Linked DNA regions of Homo sapiens. The protein of the gene in region 2 purifies or fractionates together with the protein of the main gene of each other region. This does not show direct contact. Each region holds a gene or a part of one and is shown on either strand. Other genes may lie near its edges.

Region 1 (3,648 bases), on a different chromosome or scaffold from region 2:
TCCAAGCCATCTTGCTCTCCTGTCCTCTTCCTCCCCAGCTCCTCACACACCACATGCTCCCCAGGAGGCCCCGTCCCGGGGCTGTGGCGCCAGTGACAGGCTCTGCCTCCAGGGCAAGACCCAGAGGTGCAACTGCCTCCCGGGCCTTTCCTTGTTCACCCCTCGCATAAGTTCAGCAAGTCCACGGCCAGCTTCCTGCCTATGCACCCAGTCCTCCTGTGCCCAGTGGGTGCCCCACTGTCCCCCCAGTTACCAAAACCTGCATCCCATCACCCTCATCACCCACTCCTCCCATGCCACTGGTCAAGCCAGAGGATTCGACCACGGCCATTTTGGGACCTTGTGACCTCTTCTCCATCTCCAGGCCACACCCTCCACCGCCTTCCTCATTGTGGCCACCTCCAGCCACATCAAACTTGCCTTGCGCTCCACACCTTTGCACCTGCCTGGGAAGCTCTCCCTGAACTTCTCAAGGGCCTTCGCCCTGTCCTCACACCCTCGGCAGAGCTGACACTCACCTTTCCAGCAGTCCCCTGAGGAACCCGCTGTGGGCAAGCACACCCATCGGCTTCATCCTCTGCTTGTCTGCCTGGGAACCCTTGGGGGCAGGGTGCTGCCTGAGGCATGTGTCAGTGCACTTTGTGCACAGGGGCCCTCGGTTCCACTCATTAAATGCCTGGGTGACAACATGAGGCTGGGCCAGGGTGAGTATGACTTAAACGGGGACATGCGAGCCAGCACTGTGACAGGTGCTCCAAGACCTGTGAAAGCATGGCCTGTGGCTGTGTAGCGACAGCCCTGGCTTCCACCGCGAAGAAAACACCTCCACGCGTCACTTATTCATGATCCCTGTCGGCACCTTCAACAGGGACTCAAGGCCACCCAGACTCCTCTGAGCTCTCCGTCTCTTAGGCTCCTATTACCTGGAGGCCTGGACAGGAAGGGTGCCTCCCCCACCAGCCTGTCAGGTGCTCACCACAGAGTGGGACCCCGCCAGCAGTGCTGTGCCTGTCTGCCCCTGAGCCTCGCCCCTGCCTCTCCTGAAGAGATGCTGACATTTCAGCTGGGCCAAGGCATGGCACTGGAGAAGGGAGGCAGCTAATGAAACCATCCAAAGAGCCCCGAGCGCGCAGAGTGAGAAGGACCCTTGGAGGCCTTCGCCCTGTCCTCACACCCTCGGCAGAGCTGATGCTCACCTTTCCAGCAGGCCGCTGAGGAACCTGCACGGGCAGGGCTGAGCGCAGACCCACACTGTTGCTGGGACCCTTGTGTTCACAGACACACGCTGAAGGTCATAACCGTTCTGCATCACCGAGTCATGTGGAGGGTCCCCACTGAGTCTCCCCTTTGTGACTGTCGGGTTGCCCATCCTCTCCTCCATACTGTAAGCTCTATGGGGGCAGGAACCAGGCCCATCTGGTTCCTGATGAACCCGGCTCCCAGCACTGGGTGGCCATGGTGGATGCTGGTAAACATCTATATTTAGAGTGAATGAAAACTTTTTTTTTGAGACAAAGTGTGTCGCCCAGGCTGGAATTCAGTGGCACAATCTCAGCTCACTGCAACCTGTGGCTCCCTGGTTAATGCGATTCTCGTGCCTCATCCCAACAGACATGCGGTACCACGCCCGGCTAATTTTTGTATTTTTAATAGAGATGGGGTTTCGCCATGTTTGCCAGGCTGGTCTGGAACTCCTGGCCTCAAGTGATCCACCCGCCTCGGCCTCCCAAACTGCTGGGATTACAGGCATGAACCACTGCACCCGGTGGAAAACATTTTTGATGGGGAGAAGAGGAACAAAGACATAGCTGGTGCCACTGCACATCAGAGTTGACCTGCACCAGGACTGAATCCCCCTCATTTTACAAACGCCACAGCTGAGGCCCAGTGAGTGGTGACAGAATGGCTTCTGGCTGCCTGTAAGCCCCTCACAAGCTGCAGCTGTCCTCCCCTCTCGCCCCTAGGAAATGCTTATGTATGTACCATCCAACTCTCCTGGCCTACAGGAGGAACTTGTTTTCAGTGGTCAGGTAACGTGCCCAGGACTACACTGCTGTGCTGACAGGATCAGAATTCCAATCTTGGGTTTCCCCGAGTTTCCTGCCACCTGGCCCATGGGGATCAGGGCTGGAGGGAGAACGAGGATGGCTGAGGTTTAGGTGGCTTAAGGACCAGGAGACACGGGGAGGTGGTGACTTCCTGTTTCCCAACTGGGCAGACCACTGGTGGTGGCGGGCACAGCTGGAAGGAAACCAGGCTCGCCGAGCCACCGAAGCCCCAGCTTTCTCAACCAGGAAGCAAAGAACCTCCCCCACCTCACGCCGGGAGCCCTTTCTCTGAGAGGAGCTGGTTCCGAGCCGCTCTTCCAGGGAAATGGCCCGGCGGCGACAGAGCGGGAGGGAGGGGCCGCAGGCGCTGCGAGGACGCACAGCTTCCCAATGCGTGCCCCCGGCGGTTGGGAAGCCGCGCCGCGCAGACCAATCCGGCCCGAGGCGGAGGCCGGTTGGCTCCGGAACGCCTGGCCCGCGGGGCGGGCGGGGCAGCTGGGGAGGGAGGGAGAGGCGAGAGGCAGCTGGGGACAGGGCGGGGCGGCGGGGGCGGGGCGCCTGCCCGGAGGCCAAGCCCTCTCGGCCCCACCCCGCAGCAGCCCTGCCAGGGGCGCCGCCCCAGCCCCCCCCACGGCCGAACCCCGTGCCGGTTGGGGACCCTCCACGTGACTCGGTGATGCAGAACGGTTATGACCTTCAGCGTGTGTCTGTGAACGCAAGGGTCCCAGCAACAGTGCGGGTTTGCGCTCGGCCCTGCCCGTGGGTGCAGGGACGTGTGGGTGTGTGGGCATGTGTGGGTGTGTTGGGGAGGGTGCCCAGCGACATGTGACAAAGACGCCCGTCTCCGGGAGATGGTGAAGGGGCCCGCGAGCAGGCGCTTTGTCTGGCTGTCTGCAGAGTGAGGTTCGCGCCGCGGCGGCGGGCGCCCGTGCGGTGCAGGATGCCGGGGCGCCAGGATGGCCGGGGGCGCGCGCGCCTGTGCCAGGGTGAGTGCGCTGCGGCAGCGCCGGGGGACAGCGCGGAGGGCCCGCGCCGGCCCGGGCCTCGGGCGTGACTGGGCGCCACCCGTGGGCGCTGCAGCGGCCGCGTGTCCCCGTGACCTCAGGAGCCGGCCCGGGCCCGGGTGGATCCCCGCGCGCCCCTCCCCGTCCGCCCTCCACGTGCGTGTCCGCGGCGCGCGCGCCCGCCGGCGCGCACCCGCTCGCCTGTCGCCGCCGCCACCGCTAACCGCGCCGGGAAAAGGTGCCGGGAACCGAGCGAGCCGGGGCCGCGGGCCCGAGCGCCATGGGCCCGAGGGTGGGCGGCGGGCGGCCGGTCATCCCCGGGCCTCGTCCCCGCGGGAGAGCGGCCAGGAGTCGGCGGGGGCCGGCCGGGCTCGCAGGGAGGCCGGCCCGCGCCCCCTGAGCGACGGACACCAGGTGAGGGGGCCGCCGGGCGCAGCGCGGGGGCCGGCCAGGGAGGGGCCACGGACTCCACGGGAGGTTCGGGGGGCGCCTTCTCTGGCGGGGGAGGGTATGGCGGGGAGTGGGGAGGCGGCTGGCGATTCCTGGGGACGCCTGGGAAAGGAAGTTCCGGGACCCTCCCTGCTCTCGGTCCTCCT
Region 2 (4,133 bases):
CACAGAAATAATATTTACCAGCTATATGGGCATCCCTTAGCCCAGTCAAGTTTATCATAAACTAAAAGACAAGCCACATATTGGAAAAAGATAATTAACAAAGGACTAGTATCCAGAATATATAAAGGATTGGTTAGAAAAAGCCAGACAACCCAACAGAGAAAAGAGGACAAAAGATAGAGACACACATTCATAATGGGAAACCATAATGGCCAATAAACATATGACAAGATGATCTGCCTCCCCAGTAATTAAGAAATGCAAATTAAAACAATATACCATTTTATATCCATTAGTTTGACAATGAGAAAAATCATACATAACAGTGAGGATGTGGGGAAATGGGACCTTTCACACACTGTCGATTGGAATGTAAACTGGTACAACTATTTTAAAGAGCAATTTAGAAATTTCTGGAAAAGCTGAATATGCACATACGCTAGGACTCAACAGTTCTGCTCCTTGGTGTATGTCCAGGTAAACTTTTTCTTGGGTGTAAAAATCTATGTGCCAGAGTTTTTTGCAAATTGGTTTGCAACATAAAAAAACTGGAGACAATACTATCACTCATCAATGGAGACATGAATGAACAAACTTGTTTATTCTTACAATGGAATAAAACTTAAAAGACCTGAATTCATGCCAAATTATGGCTAAATCGCCAAAACCTAATGTATGATGAAAAGTTGCAGAATACATGGAGCATAACGCCATTCATTTACATTTTAAAATCACAAAACAACTGTTTTTTGAATACATACACACTTGGTAAAAGTATAAACACAAGTAAGGGAATGATATCCACAAACTATAAAACAGTAATTATCCTGGAGAGAGAGGAGAAAGAGAAGGGTGGGGTTTAGCTTTATAAGATTTTATGACTTAGACCTTTAAACAAACATGGCAAAATGTAACAACTATCAAATGTGGGAATTAGGTTCATGAGTGTGCTATATTATTTGCTAATATTTAAAATATTTTATAGTTAATTTTATATTAAAAATCACTAGTAGCTTATTGTCTTTTAACACTTACATGTTGATATACTCACTGTAAACAATATTTAAACGTGCAGGAGTAAATAGAATAAAAGTTCTCACTTACTGCTTCCTTCCCTAAATCTCTTTTCCTTCCCGATTAAGATTAATCATGTATCGTTTCTACCCATTTGTACATATATATGCAAATATGTACACAAAAAGTTTTCTTGTATATAAGTGAATTTCTAGCAACACCTGCTTACACACACACACACACACAAATGAACATCCGTTTTCTGAAATGCTTGGGATCAGAAGTGTTTCAGATTTCTTTTTTTTTTTTTTTGTATTTTGGATTATTTGCATTATATACTTACTGGTTGAGCACTCCAAATCTGAAAATCTGAAATCTTCCAGTGGCCATTTCCTTTGAGCATCAGTCATGTTGGTGGGTCAGAAAGTTTTGGACTTTGGAGCATTTGAATTTCTGGATTAGGGATACCCAAACTGTGTGTGTGTGTGTGTGTGTGTGTGTGTGTGTGTGTGTGTGTGTGTATCCTCATCCTTTTCAACTCTTGGAAAATATTCCAGAGTATAAATAAGCCACCTTTTCTTTCATTGTACCCTAACTTTGGAAACTCAGTCTGTTTTAAATTGTTTAAAATTATAATGTTACAGCAATTTCTGTACATATACCTGAGTACACATTTATTAGTATTCTTTGAGTTTTTGAGAAATAGACTGAATATATTTAAAATTTTGATGATGTCAATTTTCCTTTCAAAAAGGCCCTATAGTCAGGTGTGGTGGCTCAAGTCTCTACTCTCAGCTATTAATGATGTTGCGAGGATTGCTTGAGTCCAGAAGTTTGAGTCCAGCCTAGACAACACGGAGAGATCTTGTCTCTAAAAAAAAAAAACCCAAAGAAACAAAAGGCCCTATAATTTATATTCCTTTAAAAATGATATGACAGTGGCTATTTCCTTATAGTCTTACAACCTTTAAAAATATTGGATATGATTGTCTAACTTGTGACAACTTGATGAACAAACATGTTTCATTTTAATTTACATTTCTCTCATCACTAGAGACTTAGTATTTCTTCTTTTGTGAATTTCTTATTTGTATCATTTGCCTATCTTTCCATTGAGTTATGTTTTGCTAACTGATTCACAGGATCAATTAACTATTTCAATCATGACATAGGTGGCAAATAACTTTCTCTAAACTTTATTTATAGTAGCTTTCACAGAATACAGAAGTTTTATATTTTTATGTGGATATATTTGTCAACTTGTTGGGATTTCGATAAATGTTTTTTCTATTTTTGAGATGGAGTTTCGCTCTTGTTGCCTAGGCTGGAGTGCAATGGTGCGATCTCGGCTCACTGCAACATCTGCCTACCGGGTTCAAGCGATTCTCACGCCTCAGCCTCCCGAGTAGCTGGGATTACAGGCATGCACCACCACGCCTGGCTAATTTTGTATTTTTAGTAGAGACGGGGTTTCTCCATGTTGGTCAGGCTGGTCTCAAACTCCCAACCTCAGGTGATCCACCCACCTAGGCCTCCCAAAGTACTGGAACTACAGGCATGGGCCACTGCACCTGGCCTCAATAGATTTTTGAAAAACTGTCATCTCCAGAATTTTCAATTGTCCTATCTAGGAACATAGTATATCTCTCCTTTTTAAGTGTTATAGCTTATTTTAGAAGTCTATTCCCAGACTTTAAAAAGTCTATTTTACAGTTTTGTTTGCAATTATAAATAGGATCTGTTTTCCATTTCTGATTGGTGACAACTGATATACAGTAAAACTATATTAATTTTGCATGTATCCACTTTGGCTTCAGAAAACTCACCTTCAGAACTGGAATCTTCATTTCTTTGTTGACCTATGGCTTTGTGTTTATGGTTAAATTATGTGCTTTGTCAATAGGTATAGAAATTCCACATATTCTTATTCTTGTGTGCTTTTTTGGTATTGTACTGATGCTGTGAGATGCATCTACAGGAAAATAAGAACTAACTTAAACACAGTTTGACTAAAATCTTAATTTTAATGTTCTGAATTAGATGTTGTACAAACTACCTGCCATATTCCCCCAGCTTCGAATCTACATATGCTTCTCAAATCTGACTCTCCTGCTATATACCATTTCTAACTTCCGCTAAAAGATTGTGTTAGAAAGTCCTGCTGGGCCTCTGAGCCTGGATATTTGCAATTAGAATTCATATACCCCACTTTCACTAGATCTCAATAGTCAAAGCAAAATTATATTTGGGCAACCCCTTGTGTGAATACAGAAAACTTAAAAAAAATAACCAAATAAAAAACATTTAATTAAAGCTGGTTATGGTGGTATGCACCTGTAGTCCTAGCTACTTAGGAGGCTGAGGCAGGATGATTGCTTGAGGTCAGAAATTCTAGGCTGCAGTGTGCTATGACTGTGCCTATGAATAGCTACTGCACTCCAGCCTGGGCAACATGGTGAGATACCCATGTGTAAAAAAGTTTTCTTTTTTTCTTTTTTTGAGACGGAGTCTTGTTCTCTCAGGCTGGAGTGCAGTGGCACAATCTTAGCTCACCACAACCTCTGCTTCCCTGGCTCAAGTAATTCTCCTGCCTCAGCCTCCTGACTAGCTGGGATTACAGGTGTGTATCACCATGTCCTGCTAATTTTGCATTTTTAATAGAGATGGGGTTTCTCCACGTTGGTTGGGCTGGTCTCGAACTTCCGACCTCAGGTAATCCACCTGCCTCAGCCTGCCAAAGTGCTGGGATTACAGGCGTGAGCCACCACACCCAGCCATGAATTACTTTATCTAATTAAACTATTAAATAACCAGTTAAAATCCATTTGAAATATAAATATATGATTATAAGAATAGGCAGGGTGCAGTGGCTTACACCTGTAATCCCAGCACTTTGGGAGGCTGAGGTGGGAGGATCAACTGAGCTCAGGAATTTGAGACCAGCCTGGCCAACATAATGAGACCTTGTCCTTACTAAAAATAAAAAAAATAGCTAGGTGTGGTGGCGCATACCTCTAGTCTCAGCTATTTGGGAGGCTTAGTTGGCATAACTGCTGAGCCCCAGGGGTCAAGGCTTTAGTGGACCATGACCATGCCACTGCACTCCAACCTGGGTGACA
Region 3 (3,648 bases), on a different chromosome or scaffold from region 2:
ACAGCAAGGGCTCCCCAGGGCCTCCTTCCCTCCTGCTGCATGCCTGGACAGCACCTCTGCCTGTGGCCGTCCCTGCCAGCCTGTCCTCGGGCAGGGGCAAGCAGCCCTCACATATGATCCCCGGGCCCCTCCTGCAGCTGTGGGCTCCGGCCCATAGCCTGCCACCCTGCCTCTCAGCAGTACCAGCTGCCCAGGTGACTGAGCCGCCCTGCCGCTCAGGCCATGTGACCACAGGTCACGGCCTTCCCAGCAGGAAGCATGTGACGGAGACAGCCTATCAGAGCACTCCATCACCCCAGCTGGTGATTGGCTCATGAGGATCACATGACCCCCAAGCTGGCCAATCAGAATCTCCCCTGATTTGTGATTGATGAATTCTAGGAGAAAAAGTGTTTCTCTTTCCCTGGAATCAAGAATTAGAATCCTTGAGCTATAGTGGCTATCTTTCCTCTAATTCAGGGCAGCCAAACTGAGAATGAAACAAATCACACAGAGAAAAGGAGAATCAACGAGTGAAGGAGAGAGAAATAGAATCCTAACGATGTCATAATTGAAGCTCCTGGATTCAGCAGGGTGTGACCCAGTCCCTGCCTTTAGCCTTCCTTGTCTATTGAACGGGCCCCAAAATGTCCCCTTTTTGCCAAACGCTTTTTGAGCTGGGTTCTGTCCGTTGTGAGCAAGATTCCCTCCTAATACAATACACTGTTTGTCCTAATCCTGCCTCTGAAACCTTGAAGTGAGAGCTCCTCTCCCTCCAGAATCCTGAATTTGGGGAACAGATTCCTGGCCTCCAGGAGCGGTGGGCTGGGTCTAGGGAGGATGCTTGAGGGTGCGTCGGGGCGGGCAGGGCGCGGCCGGCTCCAGGTCCTCACCATCCCTTTGATGCCTTCAGGGAAGAGGAAGCGGTTGTACAGCGTGCTCACGGTGTCGTCCGGGAGCACCTCACACTCCTTCTGCAGCAGCAGGTCTCCGGTGTCCAGACCATCATCCGCCCAGAAGATGGAAAACCCCCCTTTCTTATCTCCGTGAATGAGGGTCCTAGGAAGCAGAAGAGTGAAACCTGGAGTCCACGATGAAGGGCCACGGAGGATGTCCTGGGTACAGGCCCGTGGACCTGCCACCCTCCAGGAGGCCCTCTCTTCCCAGGGGTAGGACTGACACCGGCTCCGGCGGGAAACGGAAGAAGGAAAACAGCATGTATTGATAACAACCATGGGCCAGGAATTGTGCTAAAAGCTCTATATGCCTTATGTAACTGAGTCCTCACAGCAGGGATAACAGGTATACTCGGTTTACAGATAGGGAAACTAAGGCCCAGAAAAGTGAAGCGACACCCACAAAGATCAGAGAGCCTGAATCTCAACAGACCAGTCCGACTACAAATCCACTCTCTTTTCTCAACTCAAATGTCTTCCCTCTTTGACCACCCATCTGCCTTGTCACCCCATTTGTTGTCTTGGGAATTCTGTCCCCTCAGAGTACCTTGTGGAGGCCATCCTTTGCTCCATCTTTATCTCTTTCTACGAAGTGTGCTGCCCAGAGCAGCGGCAGTGGAAGTTAGAGTAGGACCCCCAGCCCACCGCCTGGGGTGGCACCCTGGCCCCTGCGCCTCCTGGTGCCCTCTCTGTCCCTGCGCCTTCTGGTGCCCTCTCTGTCTCAGCTGGGGGATGGGAACACTGACAGTGCCAGCTTCTCCAATAACTGTGGGAATGCAGAGTGCTTAGCAACACCTGCTCCCAGTGCTCTAGAGCCTTCACTCATTGATAACGTTGCACAGCCTGTTCTGTGGCTGACATCTGGCAGCCACAGGACAGGCACCTGCACGATGCCCACTCTGCAGCCCTAGAAATGCTTTGGGCTAATGGAAAGTGACAAGTCAGGCTGATGGAGGGACATGTATGGGGATGGCCCCCTGTGTTTTTGCCCCATCTCACCAGTTGATGGCCGAGGCCCCTCGGTGCCTAGGGAGCAGTGACGGGTGATAGATGATGGAGCCATGCCGGGGGGCACTGATTATCTCCATGGGGATGAATTGGCTGCAGAAGGGCAGGACGTTGAGCTCGGCCCCCAAAGCCTGGTATTTTGCCACCACATCAGGCAAAGCCTGTCCTTTTGCACGCCACCGGGAGTACTTGAATACCGGCACTCCATCCTTCTCAGCTTCCAGACCTGTGGGACGGTGGATAAGAAACTGGCCCCTCTCCATAACCCACCCACACGCAGCCACCTCTGCCTTCCCAGCAGAGCAGCTCATAGGACTTCTCTCCATTCCTGCCCCCTCACCCACACCCCAGCCAGGCTCCACTGGGCAACACAGACGGATGCACCAGCCAAGCATGAGGCTCTGGGGACTGCCCTGCCTGCATCCTGACTTTTGCTGAACCCCAGGACCTCTGAGTGCCTCCCTCTTCCAGAACCCAGATGGCTGACCTCTGCCCTCATTCCTCTCCTGAGGCCTTGCCATCCCCGTCACTGAGTTACTGTCTTCCGGCCCCCTCTACTGCTCACTCTGTGATGGGGACTGCCCCCCTGCAGATGGCATTTCTGCTTTGTCAGCTGTTCCCTGATGGAGGAAGAAGGGGAAGAAGGGCAACAGGGCATCCCCACTCCTTTCTGTCCAGTGGGTTCCTGTCCTGTGAGCCTCCCCCAGCCCAGCTTCTTCATCCCAGTCACAGTCGTTCCTTCTCAGAGCAATGGCTAAATCAGTTTTTCCATCATCTGCAGAACTAGCCTCAATATGCACACATGCGTGCACACACACACACACACACACACACCCCAGAGGACCAGATACAGCCTGCAGGGCCCCTCCTCCTGCCCCGTCACCAGCACACCCTCCTCACAGGTCTGGATTACAGGCCCAAGCTCCCAAGTTTTTATAGTTAAAGCGTCCTCCTTTATCTTAGCCTTACAGTGGCAGCTGCTTCCTGCAGTCGCTGTCCCCAATAACTTTGGGCTCTCTGCCTTCCACTCTTCAATACCCAAGGAACACTTCTTTGTATTCAGTTCTCTGTTAGAGCCTCTGGTGTGATGTTTGGGCCCTGACTGGACTGGCTCTCCTCTCCGGTCTCCTCCTCTGTCACTCTGTCCTGGTGTCTGGTAGTTTTGAGAGAGGGTGGGATGTGATGTCAGCAGATTGGACTGCACTTGCAAAAGCTGTCCCACAGTGACCAATGAAATACTGCTTCAGGACATCTGAGATCAAGGCCAAGTAGGAGTCCCAGCCAGGCCTGGTCTGGGTCCAGGGTCAGCAGCTGGGGTCAGTGGTCACTTAGTGGCTGGGTGTAGGACCCAGGCTGTGGTGGGGTCAGGGTATGTCATGGGTCACTTGTGGTCAGGTCCAAGACTGAAGCCTGGCTGGCATTGGGTGTTGAGTGTTGGAGTTGATTCTAGGGCCAGGCTGCAGCTTCCCCACTGAGGGAGACTGGCTTTCCTTAACAAACTACACCTCTGTGCCTGGCCAGGCCTACAAGCCCCCTTTCCTAATCCTGGCCCTCTATCCTTAAGCCCTGCCCCACAGTCTGTCTCCATCAGGCCTGAGAAGGACCAGTCAGTGTTCCTAGAGGGTCTGTTCATCCAAGCTGAGGCCCCTGCATCCTGTCTGCTGAGGTTCCCAGCTCAAAGGCAGTGACCCAGACCCATGATTCT

The links.
Region 1: the proteins of LYRM7 (region 2) and PC purify together in Homo sapiens (affinity purification with mass spectrometry; one large-scale study listed by BioGRID and IntAct). This does not show direct contact.
Region 3: the proteins of LYRM7 (region 2) and ALDH1L1 purify together in Homo sapiens (co-immunoprecipitation; one large-scale study listed by IntAct). This does not show direct contact.

What each region holds. Positions count from the first base shown.
Region 1 is NC_000011.10:66,853,831-66,857,478, forward strand, and holds part of PC (pyruvate carboxylase, mitochondrial precursor), read right to left. Parts: exon of another isoform or gene 3,234-3,648; intron 2,458-3,233; exon of another isoform or gene 2,316-2,457; intron 2,128-2,315; exon of another isoform or gene 1,987-2,127; coding exon of another isoform or gene 1,984-1,986; intron 1,304-1,983; exon of another isoform or gene 1,266-1,303; coding exon of another isoform or gene 1,197-1,265; intron 1-1,196. UniProt on the Homo sapiens protein: Pyruvate carboxylase catalyzes a 2-step reaction, involving the ATP-dependent carboxylation of the covalently attached biotin in the first step and the transfer of the carboxyl group to pyruvate in the second.
Region 2 is NC_000005.10:131,201,870-131,206,002, reverse strand, and holds the end of LYRM7 (complex III assembly factor LYRM7), read right to left. Parts: 3' UTR 575-4,133; downstream 1-574.
Region 3 is NC_000003.12:126,156,471-126,160,118, forward strand, and holds part of ALDH1L1 (cytosolic 10-formyltetrahydrofolate dehydrogenase), read right to left. Parts: exon of another isoform or gene 3,613-3,648; intron 2,170-3,612; coding exon 1,935-2,169; intron 1,039-1,934; coding exon 873-1,038; intron 1-872. UniProt on the Homo sapiens protein: Cytosolic 10-formyltetrahydrofolate dehydrogenase that catalyzes the NADP(+)-dependent conversion of 10-formyltetrahydrofolate to tetrahydrofolate and carbon dioxide.